7 linked regions of the Homo sapiens genome follow. The protein of the gene in region 7 interacts with the protein of the main gene of each other region in a pairwise test. Each region holds a gene or a part of one and is shown on either strand. Other genes may lie near its edges. The genes, in order: COL2A1, PCYT2, SPSB1, TIGAR, C4orf33, RHEB and LAMP2.

Region 1 (3,500 bases), on a different chromosome or scaffold from region 7:
CCCCTAAAGCATCCTTCTTTAGCTTCTAAGGAGAGGCAGAGACTGACAGGCAGGACTCAGCAGGAAAAGGTACCCCCCTGACCTGCTCAGTCAGGCCCTAGGCCCAGCTCCACCCAGCCTGTGGCCCCCAGAGTTTCGGTAAAGAGTTCCCTGGGCCTTAAGGAACCTTGAGAGAGCATTTGAGGGGTGCCACCACAAACTTGGCAGAAAAAACCCTCCCCCTCCAAGTCCAGTCCTAGAGAAGGAGCTGGCAACCTTGCCTTGCTTTGTAAGCAAAAGCCTCTTAGGGCTTGAGCTCAGATGTAGTGTTTGAGCTGTGGCTGGTGCCCTGCCCCATCAGGGAGCCAATGGTAGACATCCTATGGGCATCTTTGTTTTCCGTAAGAGCAGGCTGTCTGGGGATGGGCCAGAGGAAGAGGCAACCTGGAGTCAACCAAGAGGAGGCCTTAACCAAGCCTTAACCACAGAGGTTAACCAAGCCTTGAAAGCGCTTCCCCCTGAGCAGGCAGGAAGCACTGAGTCCACATGGTTGCCTCGCTGTTTCATTTCCTTACACTCAATTCTCTCAGTCTTTAAATGATCACTTGGCCTTGAAGTTACGGATATTTGGGGTCTGAACTGAAGTTGAAGAAAAGAGAAAATGATTTAAGCTTTGTTTAAGATTAGGGGCCAGGTGCGGTGGCTCACGCCTGTAATCCCAGCACCTTGGGAGCCTGAGGCGGGTGGATCACCTGAGGTCAGGAGTTCCAGACCAGCCTGGCCAACATAGCAAAACCCAGTCTCTACTAAAAATAACAATAAAAAAAATAGCCAGGTGTGGTGACACATGCCTGTAATCCCAGTTACTCAGGAGGCTGAGGCAGAATTGCTTGAACTTGAGAGGTGGAGGTTGTAGTGAGCCAAGACCGCACCACTGCACTCCAGCCTGGCGACAGAGCCAGACTCCGTCTCAAAAACAACAACAAAAAAAGATTAGAAGAAGCCCATTACTGCCTTCTGGCCACCCACTCGCACAGACACCAAAACTGCAGCCCACACCTCGCCATCCTCGTGCTCTGCCCTGGGACACCCCAGGCACAGTGTGTCCTTCGTTTTCTGTAAGGGTGGGCTGGGAGCAGGGACGGACAGGGCCTGTGGGCACCTCTCATGGTCACTTCCTTCTTGCTCACAGGGTGCCCGAGGCAACGATGGTCAGCCAGGCCCCGCAGGGCCTCCGGTAAGTTCATTTCATCCTCAGCAGGTCATTGTTGCTGTGCTTTAAGTCCCGTTAAGCAGCCCAAGGCAGTCTGCAGGGTGTATTGGGTGCAACCACAGCAGCACTCTGATGTCTACTGGAAAGGGGGAGGAAAGAGAAGAAGTTTGTAAATATCAATTGAGCATATCGATAACAAGCTTTGAAGCATGGGCTCATTTTCCTCAGCCATCCTTTCAGCAGTCTTTTTAGAGGAGGGAGGTCAAAGGAGTTTCTGCTTCTCACCACAGATGTAGTCAGAAACTTGCTTTGCCTTCTGAAGCCAGGCAAAGTTTCCTGGGGACGCTGGCAATGGGGACAATTTTCATCCAAGGCCTTTTAGCCACAATGGATATGGAGTGAAATCAGTACAGAGGAGGGAAGGAGTGTGAGGTGTCGGGGTGGCTCGCTTTGGAGGCCAGAACTGGCATTCACCTCTCTTCTCATCCGCCTACTCTCTCCAGGGTCCTGTCGGTCCTGCTGGTGGTCCTGGCTTCCCTGGTGCTCCTGGAGCCAAGGTACGTGCCCTGTTGTCCAGTCAGGAACTTCTGGGTGCCGAGAAGCTGTCCTTTCCCCGTAACCCTTGCTCATTGCTCCCTCAACAACCACCTGCTCCCTTCTGAGAAGTAGCTCCCCACCACCCCACCCACTGGCCCCTCCATCCAGGCAGGGCAAAAAGCCAGACACTCGCAGTCTCACCTGGAGGGAAAGTAAGACAGAAGATAAAATGTGGGAGATCCAGTTACAACTTTGGAGTGGGGAAAGGTGGACAGAGAAGAAGACGGGGATACACCATAGGCCTGGCAGGGGCAGAAGGCCAGGAGTGGCAGCACAGGGAAGCAAACCTAGGGGAGACCCAACAGCTGAGCAAGCTCGGGGCCCTGACGGGCACTGGAGGGAACTGGGCAGGGAAAAGGGCACAGGCAGGGAGCCCCTGCTCCCCTCTGGGTTTCTGCTTTATTTGGGGTGCCTGGCTCTTCCAAACCATGTTAACGGAGTTCTCTGGAGGATTACTAGAGGCCAGTGGGAGGCCAGCCAGTTCAGGGACAGGCCTCGCAGCCCAGGAAGGATTCCAGTGTGAACGTCCCTGGGAATGAATAAGGAGCCTCCATGTGTCACTGGCATCAGGTTGCTTTTCCCCTCCTGGGGGTTTCCATGGCAACCAGACAGTGTCTGAGGTCCCGGAGCCGGGTGAAGGAGACCCATTGTGAAGAGGGACAGCGGAAGGTGAGGGGGGCTGACCTTTTGAAAATAATAATTACCACAGTGAAGCAGGAATGTTCTGAGAAGAAACCTGAGGAGGCTCTGCCCTCTCTCCAGGTCAGCAGCCCTCCCCAGGGACTCTGCCATCTAGAGTGGGTTGTAATTTTCAGGAAAAAATGAAAGTAAAAGCACAAGCCATTTTGTGGGGAGGGGGCTTGCCAGAGGCGCCCGCTAAGGGGAATTGGGCTGTATTGAGAGCAGGGAGGGGCAGAGTCCCCATGTGCTTTTGCCTTGGCTTTCTGGCTTACTGAGAACAGACTGGGGCCGGAGCCAGGGTGTCACTGTTCACCCGTCAGCCAGATGGGAGTGAGGTGGTGCTCTGAGCTGGGATGTTCAGAGACTTAGAAGGGACCTCAGCTCCTCAATAAAATAGAAAAACAGGAGGTGGGGGAGAGAGCGGTGTCCGTCCATCATCCCACGGTGCCAGGATGGCAGGGTCCCCAGCCCACGCTTTTCTGATGGTGTCGATGGAACAGCAGGTTGCCCATTGCTGTAGTATGTAGCTGTGCCGTGGCATGTGGAGGCTCACTGTGTAGAGATGAGGTAAGCAGTAGAGGAGGCAGGCGTGGGAAGTCATCAAGTCATCAGCTCGGTCAGGCAGGGAGAAAAACGGCAGCGTGAACTGTGTGTGAACGCACATGTTCATGTGCAGGGTTGGGTGCATGTGCATAATTTAGTGCTGTGCTTGCAGCTGGCCCTGAGCTATTGCCCACCCACTAGAGGTCTGTGTCCCCTCTCTTCTTCTTCATTTCATCCTCCCTGTCTCTTCCCAGGGTGAAGCCGGCCCCACTGGTGCCCGTGGTCCTGAAGGTGCTCAAGGTCCTCGCGGTGAACCTGGTACTCCTGGGTCCCCTGGGCCTGCTGGTGCCTCCGTAAGTGCAGCTTCTCTTTGGCCTGGGGGGGTCTGGGGTCTGTGGCTTTGGAACTCTTGACTCTGTACTTTGCTCTGACAGTTGTGGGCTCCAACCACCAAACCTTCATTCTGGCCCAATGCCTGTCCCCACCT
Region 2 (3,500 bases), on a different chromosome or scaffold from region 7:
TGACAATACTTTGCATCCTTCAATCCAGTCAAGCTGACACTCAGCATTCACCATCACACCTGGGAAGCATGGAACCCAGAAACAAGTGCCAGGGCTCCAGTGCCAGTGCCTGTCCTGGGAAGATACCCAAGAGAAGACATGACCAGGACCTTGGGGGAGCATGAAATGGTGAGGGCACAGTGAGCTTGAAGGCTGATGTCACCTGCCAGGAGAGCGGCTGGCAGTCCTGCCTGGTGCCCCCCAAGGGGCAGAGCTGGCAGAGAGGGGCCTCCAATCGAAGGCCAGGAGTCGTGGAGCTCCAGTGCCTTGGTGTGGCTGGCCTTCTTGCCCCCCTCCCAGAGGACCCCGCCAGTAACAGCCCTGCTGGTGGAACCTTCCCCAGTGGGCATGAAAGAAATGAGGGCCCCACAAGCCACATGGACTCTGATGCCTGGAGCCAAGAATACCCCTTAGGGTGGTAGAAACCGCCCCCGGGGCACTGTGCAGTGTGGCTGGCTCTCCAGCATCAGGAGTACTGGGGATTGCCTGGGGGACGACTCCTAGGGCTGGGCGCCCGTGGGCCCTCCCCTGCTGCCACTGCGGCCCACGCAAGCCGGGCCTGAAGGGCGCGAGCGGCATGGGTGGGGAGCTTGAGGGGGCGTTGGGCTCCCACCAAGCGCCAGATCCTTGCGCGCCTCCAGCGCTCGCCCGCGCGGCTGGTTCCTTTGGGATGCGGAGGTGCGACGGCTCCTCCGCGCGCGCCCGCTGCACCCCAGCCCGCCCGCCGCCCCTCCCGGCCCTCCGCAGCCTCGGCCCGCCCTCGCCGCAGATATAAGGCGGCCCAGGCGGTGGCTGCTCCGAGCCCGGACGCCGCCGCCCACCAGTCAGCCGGCGTCCCCATGGCCCGGTCCGCGACACTGGCGGCCGCCGCCCTGGCGCTGTGCCTGCTGCTGGCGCCGCCTGGCCTCGCGTGGTACAAGCCAGCGGCGGGGCACAGCTCCTACTCGGTGGGCCGCGCCGCGGGGCTGCTGTCCGGCCTCCGCAGGTCCCCGTACGCGCGGCGCTCCCAGCCCTACAGAGGGGCGGAACCCCCGGGCGGGGCCGGCGCCTCCCCGGAGCTGCAACTGCACCCCAGGCTGCGGAGCCTCGTGAGTCCGGCGTGCCGGGGACTGATGGGGGGCGGCGGCAGGACGTGGGTGGGGGTGCGGCGGCCCCTCAGCCTTTGCTTGCCTGCCCCCCAGGCTGTGTGCGTCCAGGACGTCGCCCCAAACCTGCAGAGGTGCGAGCGGCTCCCCGACGGCCGCGGGACCTACCAGTGCAAGGCGAACGTCTTCCTGTCCCTGCGCGCAGCCGACTGCCTCGCCGCCTGAGCCCGGACCTCTCCTGGCACCGCTGGGGGCCCCCCGCCCCCACCGTCCCACTCGGTGACCCCAGGCCCCTCCGGCGCGGGATGGCGCCCCAGGTCTCCCCTACTCCGCTCACCCCGCAGTTAATGGCAAACGAATAAATAAATGAGGCGGCCTCGGAGTGAGGGGTGCTGGAGGACTGGCAGCCAGGCCACGAGGGGAACGGGACCTGGAAATCCCCAAGCCTGGGTATGAGAAGGCAGCCGAGTGTGCGGCGGCAGGGCAAGGTTGGCCTGGGCCGCCCAGAGGTCTTCAGACCCAGGGGCGAAGCTGGCCACGACCCAGCCCCGCGGTGAAGCCGCGCCTAGCCTTGGTGCTCCCTGGGGGAAGTGCAGGGCCACGGCTGGCCCGGTTCCCAGTGTCCTCCCCCAGCCCTTCGCTCCCCAACTCGAGAGCCAAATCTGTGAGGGCATGGGCTGGAGCCCCTGGCTGCCTTCCTCTTGCCCCCATCCCTTCTGGCCAGGCCAAGTCCGAGGGTGCAGGGGCAAGGAGGAGAGTTGGGGGCCTGAGCCCTGGCTCCAGAGGCCCAGAGCATGCCTCCCCAGAGCTGAAGGTGGGAGATGGGTAGGTTCTCCCTCCGCCGTTGGGTGTGACTCCGGAACTGGCTTGGGCTCTGGCCTCCAATGCTGCTACGGGGCCAGGCCCACCTCCGGGCCCAGGCAGCAGCACTGCAGGGCCTTTCTACCCTCCCCAAGCCTGGGGCCCAGGCAGCCCCTGTCCAGCACCAATCTGTCTATGGGGAACTGGCTGGTCCCTCTGCTCAGGGGACCCCGCAGTCCAGGGTTCTGAGTGGGAGCATTGGCACCACCCCACTCCTGAAAGCGGGGGCCTGGCAGGATGAGGATGGCCTGTGCCCCCCACACCTTGGCCCCTGGCTCGGAGAGCAGGGTGACAGGCTGCCTTCCTGGGCTGTGGAGAGCCTCGCGTGCACCTCGCCTCCAGCTCCTGTGCTGGGTCGTGAGGTCGACCTCACAACAGCAGAGGACAGGCCCATGGGGTGCCACATGGGCCAGGTGCTGTAGGGCAGAGGCCATTCTGGAGAGGAATGTGGGGCTGAAAAAAGTACTGATCATAAGCCTCATTTTGAATGCGGCGAGACCAGGCAATCTATGGCCTCCCTAGACACCTCCCGGAGGCTGCAGTAAGAACCTCTTCGGCCTCTGGGCTGCTCCAGGCGGGCCGTGACAGGGGTGTGGGAGACAGAGATCCCATGGCCCCTGGAGGGGCCAAGGGGCAAGGAGCCTCAGCTCTGGCTCTCCTCCTTATTCTAGCATCGCCTGCTACAGGGGGTGGCCCCAGGCTTTGGAGGGCTGGAGGCCTGGGTTTCACTCACTGCCAGGCTGCCCGCTGCACTCCCGGCTGCTGGGTGCATGGTGGGGGCAGGGCCAAGAGGGTCTCCTTGCTGAGTGGTTCCCTGGTCCTTCCCAGCAGGGCTGGGAGCCCCGCGCAGCACTGCCACCAGGCTTTATTCGGTTGTACCAAAGAGATTTCCGTCAGCCATGTACAAACAGAACAGAGTCCATAAGGAGAGTGGCGAAGCTGCCGGGAAGGAAGGCAAGCGTGTTTTCCTGGAGCCAGGCGCTGGGTGGCAGGACACCGTGTTGGGGGGTGCCCAGTGGGAGGTGGTGTGGTCTACACCCAGAGAACTAAAGGGGTGACCGCAGTCACTGCTCCCTAAAGCCCTCTGCTCTGCACCTCCCGCCACAGCTGGGTGGGCAGTCAGTGTGGCCTCTGTCCAGGTGGTGGGGGCATCCGGGGACCAGGTGGGGGCGCACGCAGGAGCGGTGCGTTTCAGGCTGCAGGTGCCGTCTGCCCGTCTCACTTCCGGCCTCTCCACTGTGCTGGACACCCTCTCTGAGCAGCTTTGCTGGAAAGAGCGGAGAGCCTGCTGCAAACCAGGCACCTTGTAGGCAGGCAAGGAGGCAGAGTCCTCACCAGCCCTTCCAGAGCCAGGCCAGTTAGAGAGGGCGGCCCTGCAGAGTCCTATGTCCAAACGCAGAAGGCGCAGAAGCAGAGCAGGGGGAGGGCCGGCCAGGGCCTCTGCCAGGTTAGAAGTCACCATCGCGCTCCCCCAGGGGCTGTGCCGCCTGCTGCCTGGCAGCCTCCAGGAAGGCC
Region 3 (3,500 bases), on a different chromosome or scaffold from region 7:
TCAGACGACAGCACAAGGTCAGGTACAGGTGTGCCTCAGTCTGCCCAGGGGTGTGTTATCCTCTCCCCAGCCCTCAACACTAGATCAGTGAAATCCAGACTCTAAGGGACTTCGATTTTGGACTTTCAGTGAGTGCTCTCCCCTCCCCCAGTTATCTGATAACATCTCCCCCAGTCTAAAGTTCCACTGGCAGCCAGGTGCCCGGCTCTGTGCTACAGAGTGCTTTATGGACGTGACTTTGTTTGAATCCTAAGCATAATAATAGCGGGAAATGGTTTCATGGTTTCACGGTGCGTGCGAGTACTGGCTCTGATCTGAGTCCTTGACGCATTGACTCATGGGCTTCCTGAGGACCCTGAGAAGTGGGTTTTGCCTCCATGTCCATTCTGCTGAGGATTGCAGGTAACTTGGCTAAGGTCTCGCGGCAAGGGAATGGTGGAGCCAAAACTCGAATCCAGACTTGGCACCCAAGCCCTTCACCAGTAAGTTTGTCACCTCCACCACCTGAGCCTTTTCTTCAAGAAGCATGGGCTCATTTTTTTAGTGAAATTTTTTGTTATTATGGAAAATGTCAAACACACCAAAGTTAGAGGCAGAGTATAATGAGCGATCAGGTTTCCTCACCTCGCATGCACACACATACACATACTCACATATGCACATGCATACTTATGCTCACAGAAGATGTGCACATGTGTACACACACATACATATGCACACACATATATGCACACATACACACACACGCTGGATTATTTTGAAGCAAATACAAGATGTCAGGTCATCTGTAGCTTCTTCCTAAGAAGCATTTAAAGGAAGCATCACATCTCAAAGAGGTTGACTGTTACTCTATGCGGGGCAAGAGTCGGGAGATGTACGTCCTTTCTGACTTGGGCTTGAGGCTCCTTCCTTGCTTGGACAAAGGGAGGATGGCAAAACCCAACAGCACATTGGGGGATCTGTCCTGCTGCCAACCCCCTGAAACCTTTGGGAAGCTGCCTGTTTGCTTTGTGTTTTAAAAGTTCTGTTCATTGCCCAACGTTAAAAATAAATGAGTCCAGTGGTCATGAGACAGACCACATCAACAACAGGCTTAGGCTCTCGGGGCCTTTCTTGGAGATGGGGAAGAGAATCCGCCAAGGCACAGCCCAGCCTTGCCTGCCATTGAGGTCCAGACCTTGTGCAATGCAGGCATGGGATTTGTGGCAGGGCTGGGTGTCAGGAGATGTGACTGTGAGAATGGTTTGTCAACAAGCTCTGAATCTGACCTGAAGCTTAGCCTGACCCTCTTGAGTTTACTGCGTAGGCGATGGGTGGAGGAATCCAAGAACCTCTGCCACCCTTGGGCGTCTCTTGGAAAACTAGGGAGGCATTGGGTGATTTGAGCACAAGATGAAGAAAATATCAGGATGCAAACTCCACACTTGAGAAATGACTGCTGAGTAGGAATATAGGATTCCAGGGTTGGAAAAACCTACCTGTGACAAGGGCTTGACGGGTGCCCCAGTTGTGAACACACCTTGCCAGACAGTCAGAGTGTGGCCAATCTGGTCACACCCTTTCCAAGGTCAGAGTGAGGAGCTGCACTCCACACCAAGAGAACCACTTGAGTTTTCTAATTTATACAAGCAGACACCAAGGGAGCATGTGTGGGAGTGGATATTAGGATGTGGAACGAACATGAAGTTGGATCTGGCCGAATTTATGGATATGGGCCCACTAAGCGGAGATTCTGCACTTGATGTTGTAGCTCAGGGGGTTAAGAAGAGATCTGTTTGGTTGGCTGACTGGAACATGGATCAAAGGATGACCCACTGTGAGTAAGTTGGAGTTTCTGGGTCTCCTTTGGTTTAATGTAGAGTTAGGGATTCATAGGCTTAGGTTTCATGTAGAGTTAGGGATTCAAAGGCTTAGGGACATTGGAATGCTGGAGTGGATTTGTCTCTTAAAAGCTACTCACCCACACTGGGAAGGTTCAGAAGACAGATCTTTCACGCATACGTTGAGAAATAGATTTGTGAGGGGGCCCCAGCATCCCTGAAGAGCTCCGTGATCCAGCCCTTACAGTGGGAGCCGCAGTCACTCAAATGGAAAACTTAAATGCAACGGGAGTAATTGCATTTGGAGTGCAGCGGCCAAGTGGCAGTACTCAGCCATCCAAGGCAAGGTGAGTGTGGTTACCTAATGGACGGCAGAGGCAAAGCTGCCGTCAGAATAGTCTGACTTGTGTGGATCTATGGCATTGGATAGTTAATCATGGTGTTCCTAGAAGTGAAATAGACAGGAAACCCGTGAAATTCTTACTTGATCTTATAAGTTACTTGATTCTTTTAAGTTTTCTGTATAAGCAGAAACTTACAGGTCAAATGAAAAAAAGTCTAACTTGAATAATTAAAACAGAAAAATAATTAAAACAGAAAATCACAGCCCTCAATCAACTTCCCAGACTTAACCCAGTTTACACAACTAAGCCCCCATGAATGAATGAATGAGTGAATGAATGAATGAGTGAACGAATGAATGAATAAGTGAACGAATGAATGAATAAGTGAATGAATAAGTGAATGAATGAATGAATGAATTGGAAGCTGGATCCCTTTGAAGAAGGACCTCAGTACACTAGAGAAAGTTTATGCTATTAATTTTTCTCCTAGCCTTCCCCAAAGGGACCTGTGACCTTTTACCAGAGTGAATATGTATTGAGGAAAGGGAAATAATTAGATTGTTCGGGGATAACTGGTTACTGAACTGATACTGATTCCAGGAAACCAAAAATATCACTCACTGTGGCCCACTAGTCAGAGAAGGGGCTTATGGAGGTCAGGTGATCAATGGAGTTTTAGCTTAGGTTTGACTCCTGGTGGCTCCCGTGGATCCCTGAACCCATCCTGGGGTTATTTCCTGGTTCCAGATTCAAAGTTGACATACTTAGCACCTGGCAGAATCCACACACTGGTTCCCTGCCTTGTGCGGTGAGGGCTGTTATGGTGGGAAAGGCCAAGTGGAAACCATTAGCGTTGCCTCTGCCTGGGAAAATAGTACATCAAAAGCAACATTGCATCCCTGGGGTGGGGCTGCCGAGATTAGCACCACCATCAAGGACTTGGAGGAGGCGGGGGTGGTGACCCCCACCACATCCCCATTCAACTCTCCGATTTGGCCTGTGCAGAAGACAGATGGACTTTAGAAACTGATAGTGGATTATTGTAAACTTAACCAAGTGGTGACTGCAAAATTCACACATCTCTGGTCCCTGCTACTGCATGCAGCTGTTGATCTGACGAATGCCCTTCTCTTTATACCTGTCCATAAGGCCCAGCAGAAGCAGTTTGCATCCAGCTGGTAAGGCCGGCAATGCCCCTTGGCGGTCTGGGCTGATGGGTATATCAGCTCTCCAGCCCTATGTCACAGTTTAGTTCACAGTCATCTTGATCACCTTTCCCTTCCACAGATATCATACTGGGGCTGGGCACGGTGGCTCACTCCTGTAATCCTAGCAC
Region 4 (3,500 bases), on a different chromosome or scaffold from region 7:
TTTTGTTTTTGAGGGCGCAATCTCGGCTCACTGCAGCCTCCGCCTCCTGGGTTCAAGCGATTCTTCTGCCTCAGCCTCCCGAGTCGCTGGGACTACAGGCACACACCACCACGCCCAGCTAATTTTTGTATTTTTGGTAGAGACGGGGTTTCACCATATTGGCCAGGCTGGTCTCAAACTCCTGACCTCATGATCCGCCTGCTTCGGCCTCCCAAAGTGCTGGGATTACAGGCATGAGCCACCGCGCCCAGCCGAGGATGTTACTTATATTGAAATAACAGATATTTTATTCTTGGTCTCAGCAAGATTTTGAGGCTGAGACAGGAAGTGAATCCAATACATGGTAACTATTTTCTAGATTAAAAATGACAGGTTCCCCATGTTTGCCCTGAATGCTTCTGCTTTATCCATCTGAATGGTAGAGGCTAATATCCTCTTTCATGCCCATTTTATAAGATTCTGAATGAATTTTGGAGTGTAGGAAATCTTTTTTTTTGAGATGAGGTCTTGCTTTTGTCGCCCAGGCTGGAGTGCAATGGCATGATCTTGGCTCACTGCAACCTCCACCTCCTGGGTTCAAGTCATTCTCCTGCCTCAGCCTCCCGAATAGCTGGGATTACAGGTGCCTGCCACCACGCCTGGCTAATTTTTGTATTTTTAGTAGACACAGGATTCTACCATGTTGGCCAGGATGGTCTCGGACTCCTGACCTCAGGTGATCTGCCCTCCTTGGCCTCCCAAAGTGCTGGGATTACAGGCATGAGCCACTGCATGTGGCCTAGGTAATCTTTTATTAATATTAACAACAATGATAATGGCAAATCAGTGCTGTTGGTTTTTTACCAAGGTATAAATAGTTCCATGTATTTTTTTTTTTTTTTGGAGACAGAGTCTTGCTCTGTTGCCCAGGCTGAAGTGCAGTGGCATGATCTTGGCTCACTGCAACCTCCACCTCCCAGGTTCAAGCGATTCTTCTGCCTCAGCCTCCCGAGTAGCTGGGACTACAGGCACTCACCACCATGCCTGGCTGATTTTTGTATTTTTATCAGAGACGGAGTTTCACCTTGTTGGCCAGGCTGGTCCCGAACTCCTGACCTCGTGATCTGCCCACCTCGGCCTCCCAAAGTGCTGGGATTACAGGCGTGAGCCACCGTGCCTGGCCAGTTCTGTGTAATTTTATTTCTTTATCATACGTTTATTTTTTAAGCTAATACATCTACATATTTAGAAATCAAAACAATTCTCCGTAGTCTTCCTATTCTTCCCCCAACCAATAGGTGGCCACATTTATTAGTTTCATGTTTATCCTTCCATTGTTTCTTTGTGCAGATCCAGATGTTTATTTCCCTCCTTTCTAAAAGGGTAGCTTTCTTTTTATATTACTCTATACCCTGCTTTTTCTACTTAATCATATATCTTGGTGAGCATTCCATATCTTTACATATAATCTCTCTCTTTAAAGGACACATTTACATAGGATTCCATTAGGTAGATATGTCACTGTTTATTTGTTAATATAAATAATGGTTATTCTGGCCATAGTTAAGGAATGAGTTATGGACATTTGGGTTGTTTATAATCTGTTGCTATTAGAAATAATACTGTAGCTAATGATCTTTTTTTTTTTTTTTTTTTTTTTTTTGTGAGACAGGGTCTTGCTCTCTCACCCATACTGGAGTGCAGTGGTGTGATTGCAGCTCACTGCAACCTCTGCCTCCCGGGTTTAAACAATTCTTGTGCCTCAGTCTCCCGAGTAGCTGGGATTACAGACGCCCGCCACCACGCATGGCTAAATTTTGTATTTTTAGTAGAGATGGGGTTTCATCATCTTGGCCATGCTGGGCTTGAACTCCTGACATCGTGATCTACCCACCTCGGACTCCCAATGTGCTGGAATTACGGGCATGAGCCACCACGTCTGGCCACAAATAATCTTTTAAATATGAGTGAATTCAGTTATTCCCAGTAATTGGGTTATTGGATAAAAGGGTAAACAGATTTGTCATTTTGATAGGTATTTCCAGATGACCCTCCCTAGGTAAAAGCACATTCACTGAAGTTCTGTCATTTCCCAGCATTTTCTCCAGGCCCTGGGCATGTTGAGGGTATGCAATCCCTGCTTGTGCCTTTAAGGAACTGGAGCCAGGATAGACACAGAGCTAAAAAGTCAATTAGCACACAGATGAAAACTTATGTTGGTAGTGCCAGGGGACCATGGGAGTATAGAGTGTGGGTATTAAATAGAGTAGGTAGATGGGGAATGGTACTGGGGAGGGAGACTACCTAAAAGAACCAGTCTTGTGTTGGGTCTTAAAGAACATTCATATTGGCCAAATCCAGCAATCTGTATCTTGGCAGAGGTTGGCATACAGCTGTTTTTGTAAACAAGCGGCAAGATTCCAGGATGAGGCCTGAGTTTGTGATTCTGACTTCCAGGTCTGGTAGATTTTTTTTTCTAGATCTGAGTAAATCAGTCCTATGTGACATTTTAATTATTATAAACTAGTGCTTCACTTAAAAACAATGGAGCGATCATTTTCCATCGAAATCAAGGAAATGCAAATTAAAATTAAAGTGAGATGAATTGTTCAGGTACCAGATTGGTACAAATTGAAGAAACCTTCCATCACTGAATCTTGTTGAGGGTGGTACACCACACTACAGGGTGGTGTAACCTGCTATGACACTGGCATTACCTAATAAAGCTGGTATTTGCATACCTTATGGCCCAGCAATTCTAGTGGTAGGTTGGGTCAGCAAACATTTAATTAGTGCTCAAAGAAATTTCAGCTGAATTCTCTTTGATTCTACTTTTCATGTATTTGAAAGTTGCATTATTGTTAACCTATCCTGCTGTCTGTCCAGTCTTGCCCATGCACTTCCCGCCCTTTTCCCCCTCCAGCCTCAGTAACCCCAGTTATTTTCTGACAAAGTTTCCAGTTCTTTTACCCTTCCGGTTGGTTCAGATTGCTTTGATTTGTTTTGGTATTTTAGTTTTTAAAAGTGTAGTACTCAAACCTCAGTTCAGTGTGCAGTTAGTTGGTCTGCGAGATAGCTGTCAGTACTACAAAAAATAACTGCTGAAGACCTAGGAACTAAGAGAAGGCAGGGGGTTCTGAAGGTTTGTGCACGTCTCTCCCATTCCATTCAGATTCTCTTTCACTTGCTCATTCAGTCCAGCAATGAATAGACTGACTCTCACGTTTTTGTTCCTGCTGCCAGTAAGAGTAGTTTTGATCAATATATTTCTTTTAACAAAATTATTTGGCTGAAATGTTATTTGCATTATATTTTTTAGTAGGATTTTCCACCTGCAATTCACTTAAGATTGGTTCCTGATCTACACGTTTTAGTTTGGAGTAGTTTGAAATTCTTAGCTCTTCATTAAAGAAGACAATTGCAAATATTAGTTTAGAATAAATTGTTTTTACAGGTTGGATTATGAAGTGTGTTACAAGTTTCACATGATATTTTTAGAGTATCACCACACTTGATTGCTC
Region 5 (3,500 bases), on a different chromosome or scaffold from region 7:
GCAAGGACAAAAACCTGATTTGTAAGTAGAAAATAAATGAAGATATGTTCCAAATACACGAGTTTTTTCGAAATTAATTCTTAGTGGAGCAGAAGTAACACTTTTGATCAAAGAAGACGACATATGTGCACAAGTATCTAGTAGAGTCCAATGTTCACTGATGGTCCTCAGAAAATACTTGGAAAACTTTGGACTGTCATAATCTCTCTCACTACTGTCAGTAGAGCACTTATTTTTCCATAGTGGTATGAGAAAAGTGTTGTTTGCATGTGAGAAAAGTAAATGTTGTAATAGCTGATATAGAAGTATGGTCACAAATTCATTTAAAATTTCTTTCAGAGCTAAAGGGCCAGAGGCATCAGTGTTTCCTGGTGTGAACAAACAGTCCCCTGTTACAAGGAAATCTAATCTTCAGTTATCTCTCTAGTTCTCCTCTTCTGGTAACCTCATAAGGATAAAAATATCAACTATGTTTCTAGGCAACACTGCTTACGATAAAAATGACCCTTAAGTGGCAAATTACATCTGGACTGAGAATAATTTTGGATGAACTATAAATATATGATGGAGACAGCATGGCTTTGGGATTCCCCTGTAACAGTCATGTTCCCTGTGGGAACCCTGGAAGCTATGGCTATGGAGTTATTCCAAGAGATATTGCTCTCATGGGGCAGCAGGCATTTGAGCCAAGTTATCTGCTATGCTTTCTCAATTTGAGTCTTGTTTCCTTGCACCTGTAGCTCTCACATAGGCAGACTAGAGCTCCTGGCCAGCCTTATGAATGCTTCATGGACTTCTGCAAGGACTACTCCTTTAGGGAGGAAAGCCAGATGCTGTCCTGGGGCAAGCTGTGATTGCTGCTCTATATCTCTCTAGGTATACTCACTATGGCCAAGGTAGTCTCGTGAGTCTGGGCATTTGGAAGAACCTAACAGAAACATCCTAGTGAGCATTGCACTATGGTAGATGGACATTCCTGCCTTTTAACCTGTGGAATGTGCTGCATCGTCCTTCCTCTCCCTGTTTGCCTTCTCCTTCCTGCCATGCTCTTACTTTATGCTTCTTTGTCTTTATCACTTCTAGCATATTTCTTTATTTTGCTTGATATTTTTTCCCCTTTTCCCTTTGCCTTTCTCCCCAATCCTGACATAGCTTTTACCTAGTCTTTTTTCCCCTTCCTTTTTCTTATCCTTCACTGTTTTTTCCTTAATCTCTTACTCTGGGATTGACAATTGTGATTCAAAAACTGACTTATCCTGGCCAGGTGGGCAGAATGAGACAAACATGTAGTTGCAACTGACTCAAGGTCCTCATATCAAGACGTCATGTCTCTCTGGCTCTTCATCAGCTAATACCTTCCTATATTCAGGCTCTTCATTCATACATTATTTGGAAGCTTATCTTAGGTGGAAGTACGATTATACATTGGCCAGGACAGAGCCAAGGCAGAGTGACTTCCTACAGAGTGGGGCTCCACTGCAGCATGTTAGCTAAGCCTTTCTCTCCTCATTAAGCCACAAGAGAAAGCTTCTTAATGTAGTTAAGTGGTTTTCCTCGAAAGAAAAGAACTGGGATTAATACTCTTTTACATTAACCTCTCTTGCTTCAGCAGAGAAGGGAATTAAGAAGTCTATCTTATCAATGGAACTGAAACTTTTCAAAACAATTGCTTATATGACTGATATAAATTATATCAAAGTTTGAATATAAAAACATATGCAAGAGCATAATATGATTTGTTTAAAGCTGGATGGAATGAGTTATGTTTTGAGAACTGATTTCTCCCTTCAGCTGTGAGGGAGTTATTTGCAGAATTGAAAGAAGAGTGCTTTGAGATGCAGGTGAATGTTTTCAGAGCTGAGTGTTTGACAGCTAGAGTGAGAAAACTGTACATATAAAATATATCTTACCTTTAGTATTGCTTAAAATAGAATGTTGTATTACAGTTGTGACAAAATAAATAGCCCTTCAGGACAACTATTTCACAAATGCATAATTCATTTCAATTCCCACCTTCTTTTTCTTTGCTTTTAGCCATTGCCTAGAATACTTCAAGTCTTTCAATTTTAACACACTGCTTGGAGAAGAGTGGAAACAACCGGAATCAGACCTGTGGCTAATAGAGAAATGTGATATATAGGAGTAATAGATAACCATACCGATCATTTTTTCCTCTATACCTTTTAAGATAAACAAAAAATAAATATCAATTTTTTAAGATGTCATGCATACATTTCAACAACAAATATCTTCATAGAAGTCACTGAAAATATAGTATCTGTGGCAAATTGTATATGATTAACAAGAAAATATATGATTCTTTGTAGATGATTTCATCTGTAAAGTCACAATGTTTCTCAGAGTCACTTAGTCCAGGATGTTGCATTCCCAGCACACAGTACAGTTATTCTTGAAAACTACAAGTGAAAAAGGGGGAACAATTGAGGTTGTCCAAGGCCACCTAGAGGACTGTCTTGCACTACCTTGTGATTCAACCATTTCATTCCTAGATATATACCCCAGAAAAATGACTGCTCATAGCAGCTTTATTCATAATAGCACAAAATTGTAAACAGTGAAATTTCCATCCATAGGAAAATGGATAGACAAACTACAATATAGTCAGTGGAATACTGTTCATTTAAAAAAGGACTGCTGATACATGCAACAACCTGTATGAATCTCAAAAACATTAAGTTGAGCAAAACAAACCAAACATAACATACTATCTAATTACTTTTATATTAAAGCCACTTCCAGGCAAAACTAATATTTGATGATAGATACCAGAACAGTGGCTGCTTAGAGTGAGGGCAGGGAATTCAAATTGAATGGAAAAGGGGCCTGAGGAAATTTTCCGGGGTGATTGAAATGTTTTGTATTTTGATCTGGATGATGGTTATGTAGCTGCATATATTTGTCAACATTCCTCATGCTGTATGTTTAGATTTGTGATTTTACTATATGTAAATTAATTCCTTAATAAAATACTATTATAAAATAAGCTGTAAATTAAATGGAATTAACTTCAAGTTTACATTGAGTTTATATGTTTCCATTGAACAATCACTAGTGATGGTTAAATGTGGCTTATCGACTTACTCATTTCTTATATATGTTCTCTATCTAAAAAGAGAGCTGGTGTAAGATAAATGCTAACTTTTACAAAAGGTATTATTAAGTATCCTGACTACACATCATGGTGGCAGTGTTAGGCATCTTAGATAAATTGAGAAATTATTCTTAAAACTGACAATAGCAACTAATTAATTTGATATAGAAACGATCTGCCTGTTTTAGATACGAATGGCATATTTTAAATAACCTAGGACGATTTATTTATAAATTACCTGAATAATTTTATAAATGCATATAAAACTATCAAAATAAAAACAAGATATATTTTAGAGCATCTTGATTTTAGAAGCGAATCGAACACTGTGAATCACAGTTTCAGATATAAATCATAACTATTTATAATATGGATAAAAATGAAGCAC
Region 6 (3,500 bases), on a different chromosome or scaffold from region 7:
TTTTTTTTCTTTAAAGAACTTTACCATAGGGCAGTAATTCTGGGCTGTCATAAACAGTGGTTATAACCATACTATAAGTTTACAAAAATAATAGACTGCTGCTTAATCTTCTGGTACCATGATGTGATTTTTCCATAATAGTGCTTAGGACATGTGTTATGTTGACAATTTAGTTTCAACTAAGAATGAAACGTTCGTACCAGACAGTGGCGCGTGCTGTTGAAAACTGCACTGACATCAGAACTTTCTGTATGCTTTAATACGTATATAAAGCAAAGTGTCATAACGCTGCTTTATAAAACTAAAGACTACTGTGCTGTTGCGTAATAGGTACCTTTCTCTTTAATTCCTAGAGTTGCTCAGTAAATAACTCTCTTGGTCCCCAAAAGTCTGAATACCTCAATTGAACCTGGTGTTTTGATCCTCTTTTCTCTTTCTCTGTTTCTCTCTCTCTCCCCCACCTCCCTCCCTCTCTCCCTCTCTCCTTCAGATGCTGATGGCACCCCTCTAGCAACCTGTAGACTGAAGCTCAGGTCATTGTGACTGACATGCAGAGAATAAATCAAATAATATGCCAGTTTCAAATATAAAAATACAGATTTATGGGATAAATCAGCAGGATTTATAAATGTCCTGAGGTCTAGAAGGTTCTGGAGTTAGTGATGCTCATCCCTTGTTTTGAGATCACAGAGCCAATGATTTTTGTGTTCCATCCATCCTCTTCTCCCAGAAATTATGAAGGTCATCAGACTTTCCCCTAAAGTTCTAGAACAGCTAGTCATTTTTAAATATTGGCTTGAACCACATTATCACCTCCAGGCCATTCTTAAAGCTTCACTTTGTAGGCTGTTTCTGGCATAATATTGTAATCCACTCTGCGTCTACTTTGATTTCTTCAGGTAATACATGAAAAACTTTGGGTAAAGTTTGTTTGTGATGCTATATGAAGACTACTCAAAGATAATTTTTTTTCCCCACAGGATGAATATTCTATCTTTCCTCAGACATACTCCATAGATATTAATGGCTATATTCTTGTGTATTCTGTTACATCAATCAAAAGGTAAGACTCCTGCTGCCTGCTTGAGTTGATTTGCTACTCATAGATAACATTGATCCTTTTAAGGGACTGTGCTGGAATTATTAATAGTGACAATTAGAATTATTAGGCTACATGTTTTTTAGTGATTTTCTCGTGGAGCAACTGGATTGCTGGGAAACATGGCCCACTAGATGTTCTGTTAGTTACACCAATAGGATAAAAGGCTCTTTCTTACCTCAAGCTACCTAGAAAAACAGTGGTTCAGCATGATCTAAGCTTTTCTGCTAATTGAAATGGGAAATGCCTAAATTAATTTTACTTTGTGTGTGTTTTTACCATATTAAGGTGAAATAGACTTTCTAATAAAATGTGGGGGTTTGGGTTTGTTCAATATCTTATCCTTTGAATTTATGAAATAAGACCTTTTGGTAATAGAGTCTGACTTTACTACATAAAAACAAAGCCACTATTTTTATTAATAAGAATGGATATCGGTTCCTCTAGCTACGTATTTCATGTCTCCTCTTATCGGGGGATGGCATGTATTATCAGGAGGAGCAGTGGTCTGTGTCTGTTAACAGAACAGCTGGCTGTATACAGCAGCGGAGCTCTGGGCATTGGTGACAGCTTATGTTTGAAGACTTTATGAAAATATCAGTGCCAGTGGAGGGCGTTTGGTGGCTACGTAGCATCTATTGAGTGTGTGCGACATGTTAGGGAGTTTGCTACTCTCTTTGCCTACATATGATACATTACTTATTTCATCATTACCTTAATCCTTCATCAGAGATGTTTTATATCCCACTTTACGTGGAAAGAAACTGAGTGACAGAGACCTAAAGCAGCTTGCCCAGGGCTACATAATGACATTGCTGGGATTCATAGCCATCTCTCCAGTTCCACAGTCAAGGCTGACACTGTCCAATAGAACTTACTGCGGTGATAGAAGTGTTTGCTCTCTGTGCTGCAGGTGGCTGTTTAACTAAAAATGGAAAATTAAGCCTCCCTCGGTTACAGTAGCCCCATTTCAGGTGCTCAGTAGCCACATGTGGCTGGAGGCTGCCATGTTGGCCAGTGTCTGGGTTCCTTACCCCCACATACTCCACTGCCAGTGAAAATTCAGTCTGCTGCTCTGTGAGTGTGTTGTTTAACATTTTTCTCCGTGGCAGAGAAACATACTTTAGGGTGTTGAGTTCTAGCTATAAAATGTTTGAGTACCATTCTCGGCCATTCTTATAAACAGACCCCATACTGTCAATCCCCGAGAAAGTTTACACCTGAATCAAAACCAAGTACCAGAATTATGTGTTCCTTAAGGAAAATTGAGGAACTGTGAAAAATAGAAAGTGAGGGTAATCATTCTTAATCTAATTACCTAAGCATAGATACTGTTAATATCTTGGTATATGTTTTTTCTGGTCTTTGTTTTAGTCTGCATGGATTGTTTTAACATCCTTTTATTTGCTCTCTGAATGCTGTTTTATGGTTTATATTTTCCATGTTTTTATATTTTTACTTACCATGTAATATATATTTTTCCATATTACCTAGTATTTGAAATAGTAAATGGCTTTATAATATTTCATGTTCAATGATAGATGGATATCTCTCTTCCTGTTTAATGTATTTATTTATATTGTCACTGAAAGCAATGCTTGGATTGGATTTTATGCTTAAAACCACTGTGTACTTAGTATTTGGAAACATGATCATTTTCTTACTGACTTATAAGAGCACTTTAAATAGTAAAACTATTGGCCATTTTTATACAAAGATTTTTTTAATTTCAGTTGTATATTTTTAAAATGTATATACTGCCACGTGTAAGGCCTTGTCCAGAACAAATTTAGTGTACCAATAATCTAATGAATGTTGGAAGTTCATGTTTGTTTATGAATTTCCATTATTTTACTAATTTACTTGAAAAACATGATTCAAAGATTGTTTTGTTGTTGGTAAGTACAATTTTATCCTAGCTGATTTTTAGAAAACAGTGTTGGTGTTACTTTACAAATTGTTACTTTGAGGCATTAAAGTAGTAGGTAGAAAATTTTCTTAGTGCATCCACTGATTTTTTTTAAGTCTCTTTTTTGGTGTGCACAAATTAGATGACATTATAGAATCAAGTTGAAAACATAGCATGTGCCACTGGGGAAATTGAAAAATACATTGAGCTGGATTAAAAATATGAAAGTGTGCTCACCAAGGACCTTATGTATTTGAGAAAACACTGGCCTAGTGCAAAGCAGAGGACAAAAAGCTTGGTACTGTGTCTTCTCAGTGGCACTGTTGCAAGTTTTGACCAAGTTTCTCCTTACTAAAATGGGTGTGTTTTCTTTTGTTATATGCCTTTTACCTCAGTAACTCATAGTTTAATGAGCATTCTCAAATCTCAAACATGAGTGTGAGAAGAGTGGTGTTTTGTTTTTTAGAAACCTATATGCTGAATACACAAATA
Region 7 (3,500 bases):
GTGTGTAGCAGAAGGAAAATAAAGTTGGCTAAATGAAGTGGGCCTAAATTATAGGGGGCCTTGGAAGCCAAGGAAAGACATTTAGCTTGATGGGGCAGGCACTGGGGAATCATTTTAGGTTTTTAAAGCAGGAGAATGATATAACAAAAGCAGAGACAGTAGCTTATAAAGAATATTCTGCAGGATTAGTTGAGAAGTGAGGAGGCTACAAGCAGAGATGCTGGCTTAAGAAGCTGTTATAGTAATCAAGGGCTGATGTAATAAATGCCTGGACTACAGGGGCATCAGTTGTTAGCAGTTATTAGGAGGAGGTGTTTAATCTGACATATTTGGATAGAAAAACTATGGACCCTGAAATGTTAACACTTCTCTCTTTCCCCTTTTATTTAAAACAAAGGGAGGATTACTTTTTAAATTACTACCTTCTATATAATAATATTTGAAACTATTTGGAATGTTAAATGGCTTCCTGAAATGGACTATTAATAATTGTTTTTGATATAGTTCAGTGTTTCAAGAATACTAATTTATGGCTGGGCGCAGTGGCTCACACCTGTAATCCCAGCACTTTGGGAGGCTGAGGCTGGTGGATCATTGGAGGTCAGGAGATTGAGACCAGCCTGGCCAACATGGTGAAACCCTGTCTCTACTAAAAATACAAAAATTAGCCGGGTGGTAGTGGTGCGTGCCTGTAATCCCAGCTACTCAGGAGGCTAAAGCAGGAGAATCGCTTTAACCTGGGAGGCGGAGGTTGCGGTGAGCCAAGATTACGCCACTGCACTCTAGCCTGGGCAACAGAGGGAGACCCTTCCTTACCCACCCCCAACAACAACAAAAAAAACTAATTTAGGCCAGGTGCAGTGACTCAACGCCTGTAATCCCAACACTTTGGAAGGCCAGGCAGATCGCTTGAGCTCAGGAGTGTGAGACTAGCCTGGGCAACATAGCGACATTCTGTCTCAAAAAATAAAAATAAAAAACTACTAATTTATTTTTAGGCATCTGATAACTGAAGTAACATTGAAGCTGCTTTTTTCTTTTTTAAATTTTTTTCGTGATTAAAATATAGAAATGTACTGGCCAGGTGTGGTGGCTCGTGCCTGTAATCCCAGCATTTTGGGAGGCCAAGGCAGGCAGATCACCTGAGGTCAGAAGTTCGAGACCAACATGGTGAAACCCCATCTCTACTAAAAATACGAAAATTAGCTGGGCGTGGTGGCGTGCACCTGTAATTCCAGCTACTTGGGAGGTTGAGGCATGAGAATCGTTTGAACCTAGGAGGTGGAGGTTGCAGTGAGCTCATATCATGCCACTGCACTCCAACCTGGGCAACAGAGCAAGACTCCATCTCAAAAAAAAATTATATATATATAAGTTACGTATATAATAAGGGTTTTTTAAAAGGCTCTACATATACATATATATATATAAAGATTATATATCTATAAAGATTATATATGTATACAGAGAATAATATAGCAGACCCATATGTACCCATTATCCAGAATTAATAAATGCTGTTTTTTTAATGTTTGTGTTACTTTTTTGATTAAAAAGATAAAACGTTGACAATACAGTTGATATTTCCTTTGTCTTCATTCCCCAGACCCATTTTCCTTCTTGCCTGCTAAGAGGCAAACACTTTCACAAATTTGGGGTATAACCTTCCTGTCTTTATGTTTGTCTTTTACTATATAAGTACGTGTTCATAAACAATACATAGTTTAAAAAAAGCTATTCATAGTATAACTCCAATATGCCTGCAAGTTGTTTTTTTGCTGATTTGCTTTTGAAGTCCATCTATATACAGCCAGTCACGTATCTATTCATTTTTGTTAACGGTGAGAAGCAATTCTGGGAAAAATGTTCTAGTTCATTGGTTTTTTGTTTTGTTTTGTTTTTTAATTCCTATGGCCATTAGGGGGTGCCAAGGCAGCATTATATGGCTGCTTGCTACATGATGGAGAGGCACAGAAGGCAGCCTATATTAAGGACCTTGGATACTTTCCTTTCTTGCTACTTCTCCAAAAGAAGCCAAACCACTTGGGTGATCATCGTCTTTTGAAGTTTCACTATACACAGGCTAATAAAAACTATATGAAATGGCTGTAACTTACTGCTTTCATACTCTGAAGATTCCCTGAAATGGAATCATCTTTAAATGTAATCCAGGAAGCGGTTCTATAAGCTCATTGGAGTTAATATAACTTACTTGGGACTAGTAAAACAAAAATAAGGATTTACTATACAAATGTATGATTAATCCATCTCTCTTGCTTCTTTAGTTATAGTCACTAAGTCCTGATGATTCTACCATAGATAAGTGTTTTCAGTTTGGCTTCTTTGCTCTCTTTCTACTGCCCCACACCATCTTAGTTTAGGCAACCCTCCCTTACCCTTCACCTTAACCAGACCATCACCCTCTGGTTTCCCTCTTAAGTGGCTTCCCTGAAAAGTTTTTCCCCCTGCTTATCCCCTACAAATTTGCTATCTTCCTTAAAATAAATTATATATGTGTTATTTTCTGCTTTAAAAACTGAGGCTAGCCCTCGACTGCTAAAAAGAAAAGCCCAAACAGGCCTTAGATCATAGAAGATGCTTCAAAGTATGATCACCTGCAACTTGTCTTTCCTTCTTAACCCCCATTTCTTTTCCTTTTTTCTTTCTTTTTCTTTTTTTCTTGAGACAGAGTTTTGCTCTTGTCATCCAGGCTGTAGTGCAGTGGGCGATCTTGGCTCACTGCAACCTCCGCCTCCCGGGTTCAAGCAATTCTCCTGCCTTAGCCTCCCAAGTAACTGGGATTACAGGCACCTGCCACCATGCCCAGCTAATTATTATCTTTTTAGTAGAGACGAGGTTTCACCATGTTGGTCAGGCTGGTCTCAAACTCCTGACCTCAGGTGATCCACCCACCTCGGCCTCCCAAAGTGCTGGGATTACAGGCATGGGCCACTGTGCCCAGCCCCTAACCCCCATTTCTTCTTCCCCCTTACTCCTTATGTTTTAGCCACAGTGAACTAGTCATGCCCTTAAGCATGCTATATCCTTTGTCACTTTGTGCCTGGGGTAGGGCAGGCAGAGAGAAGAAGAAAGCCTATACAAATATATTTATATTATCACTTTTCTCCTACCTTCTTGGAAATAGCCATTGTTAATCTTGTTTTATAGGAATTCTTACTGTTGATGAACTTTTGGCCATCAGAATTCCATTGAATGACCTTTTTAGATGCAATAGTTTATCAACTTTGGAAAAGAATGATGTTGTCCAACACTACTGGGATGTTCTTGTACAAGCTTTTGTCCAAAATGGCACAGTGAGCACAAATGGTGAGTAAAGTATATATTTCTCTACTTGGATCCTAATTTAAGAGTAGAGTATACCAGGTAGCTTTCATTGAAGTCATTATCTGAAAGCATTTATATATTAAGGTTTATTCATAGCTTCTACTAGGCTATAAAGTTTTTGTAAATAATAGCAATTCTTATTTTTGTGTATCTTA

The links.
Region 1: the proteins of LAMP2 (region 7) and COL2A1 interact in binary tests that used the Homo sapiens proteins (3 or more experiments, as listed by UniProt).
Region 2: the proteins of LAMP2 (region 7) and PCYT2 interact in binary tests that used the Homo sapiens proteins (3 or more experiments, as listed by UniProt).
Region 3: the proteins of LAMP2 (region 7) and SPSB1 interact in binary tests that used the Homo sapiens proteins (3 or more experiments, as listed by UniProt).
Region 4: the proteins of LAMP2 (region 7) and TIGAR interact in binary tests that used the Homo sapiens proteins (3 or more experiments, as listed by UniProt).
Region 5: the proteins of LAMP2 (region 7) and C4orf33 interact in binary tests that used the Homo sapiens proteins (3 or more experiments, as listed by UniProt).
Region 6: the proteins of LAMP2 (region 7) and RHEB interact in binary tests that used the Homo sapiens proteins (3 or more experiments, as listed by UniProt).

What each region holds. Positions count from the first base shown.
Region 1 is NC_000012.12:47,987,477-47,990,976, reverse strand, and holds part of COL2A1 (collagen alpha-1(II) chain isoform 1 precursor), read left to right. Parts: intron 1-1,171; coding exon 1,172-1,216; intron 1,217-1,695; coding exon 1,696-1,749; intron 1,750-3,267; coding exon 3,268-3,366; intron 3,367-3,500. UniProt on the Homo sapiens protein: Type II collagen is specific for cartilaginous tissues. It is essential for the normal embryonic development of the skeleton, for linear growth and for the ability of cartilage to resist compressive forces.
Region 2 is NC_000017.11:81,901,400-81,904,899, forward strand, and holds part of PCYT2 (ethanolamine-phosphate cytidylyltransferase), read right to left. Parts: coding exon 3,434-3,500; 3' UTR 1,350-3,433; coding exon of another isoform or gene 1,221-1,349; 3' UTR 1,128-1,220; coding exon of another isoform or gene 879-1,127; 3' UTR 1-878. Other genes in the region: NPB (neuropeptide B preproprotein), read left to right, coding at 879-1,127, 1,221-1,349. UniProt on the Homo sapiens protein: Ethanolamine-phosphate cytidylyltransferase that catalyzes the second step in the synthesis of phosphatidylethanolamine (PE) from ethanolamine via the CDP-ethanolamine pathway.
Region 3 is NC_000001.11:9,295,894-9,299,393, forward strand, and holds part of SPSB1 (SPRY domain-containing SOCS box protein 1), read left to right. Parts: intron 1-3,500. UniProt on the Homo sapiens protein: Substrate recognition component of a SCF-like ECS (Elongin BC-CUL2/5-SOCS-box protein) E3 ubiquitin-protein ligase complex which mediates the ubiquitination and subsequent proteasomal degradation of target proteins.
Region 4 is NC_000012.12:4,327,713-4,331,212, forward strand, and holds part of TIGAR (fructose-2,6-bisphosphatase TIGAR), read left to right. Parts: intron 1-3,500.
Region 5 is NC_000004.12:129,109,652-129,113,151, forward strand, and holds part of C4orf33 (UPF0462 protein C4orf33), read left to right. Parts: coding exon 1-21; intron 22-339; coding exon of another isoform or gene 340-427; exon of another isoform or gene 428-479; coding exon of another isoform or gene 480-498; exon of another isoform or gene 499-691; intron 692-2,034; coding exon 2,035-2,140; 3' UTR 2,141-3,500.
Region 6 is NC_000007.14:151,474,896-151,478,395, reverse strand, and holds part of RHEB (GTP-binding protein Rheb), read left to right. Parts: intron 1-980; coding exon 981-1,063; intron 1,064-3,500. UniProt on the Homo sapiens protein: Small GTPase that acts as an allosteric activator of the canonical mTORC1 complex, an evolutionarily conserved central nutrient sensor that stimulates anabolic reactions and macromolecule biosynthesis to promote cellular biomass generation and growth.
Region 7 is NC_000023.11:120,448,797-120,452,296, reverse strand, and holds part of LAMP2 (lysosome-associated membrane glycoprotein 2 isoform A precursor), read left to right. Parts: intron 1-3,168; coding exon 3,169-3,327; intron 3,328-3,500. UniProt on the Homo sapiens protein: Lysosomal membrane glycoprotein which plays an important role in lysosome biogenesis, lysosomal pH regulation and autophagy.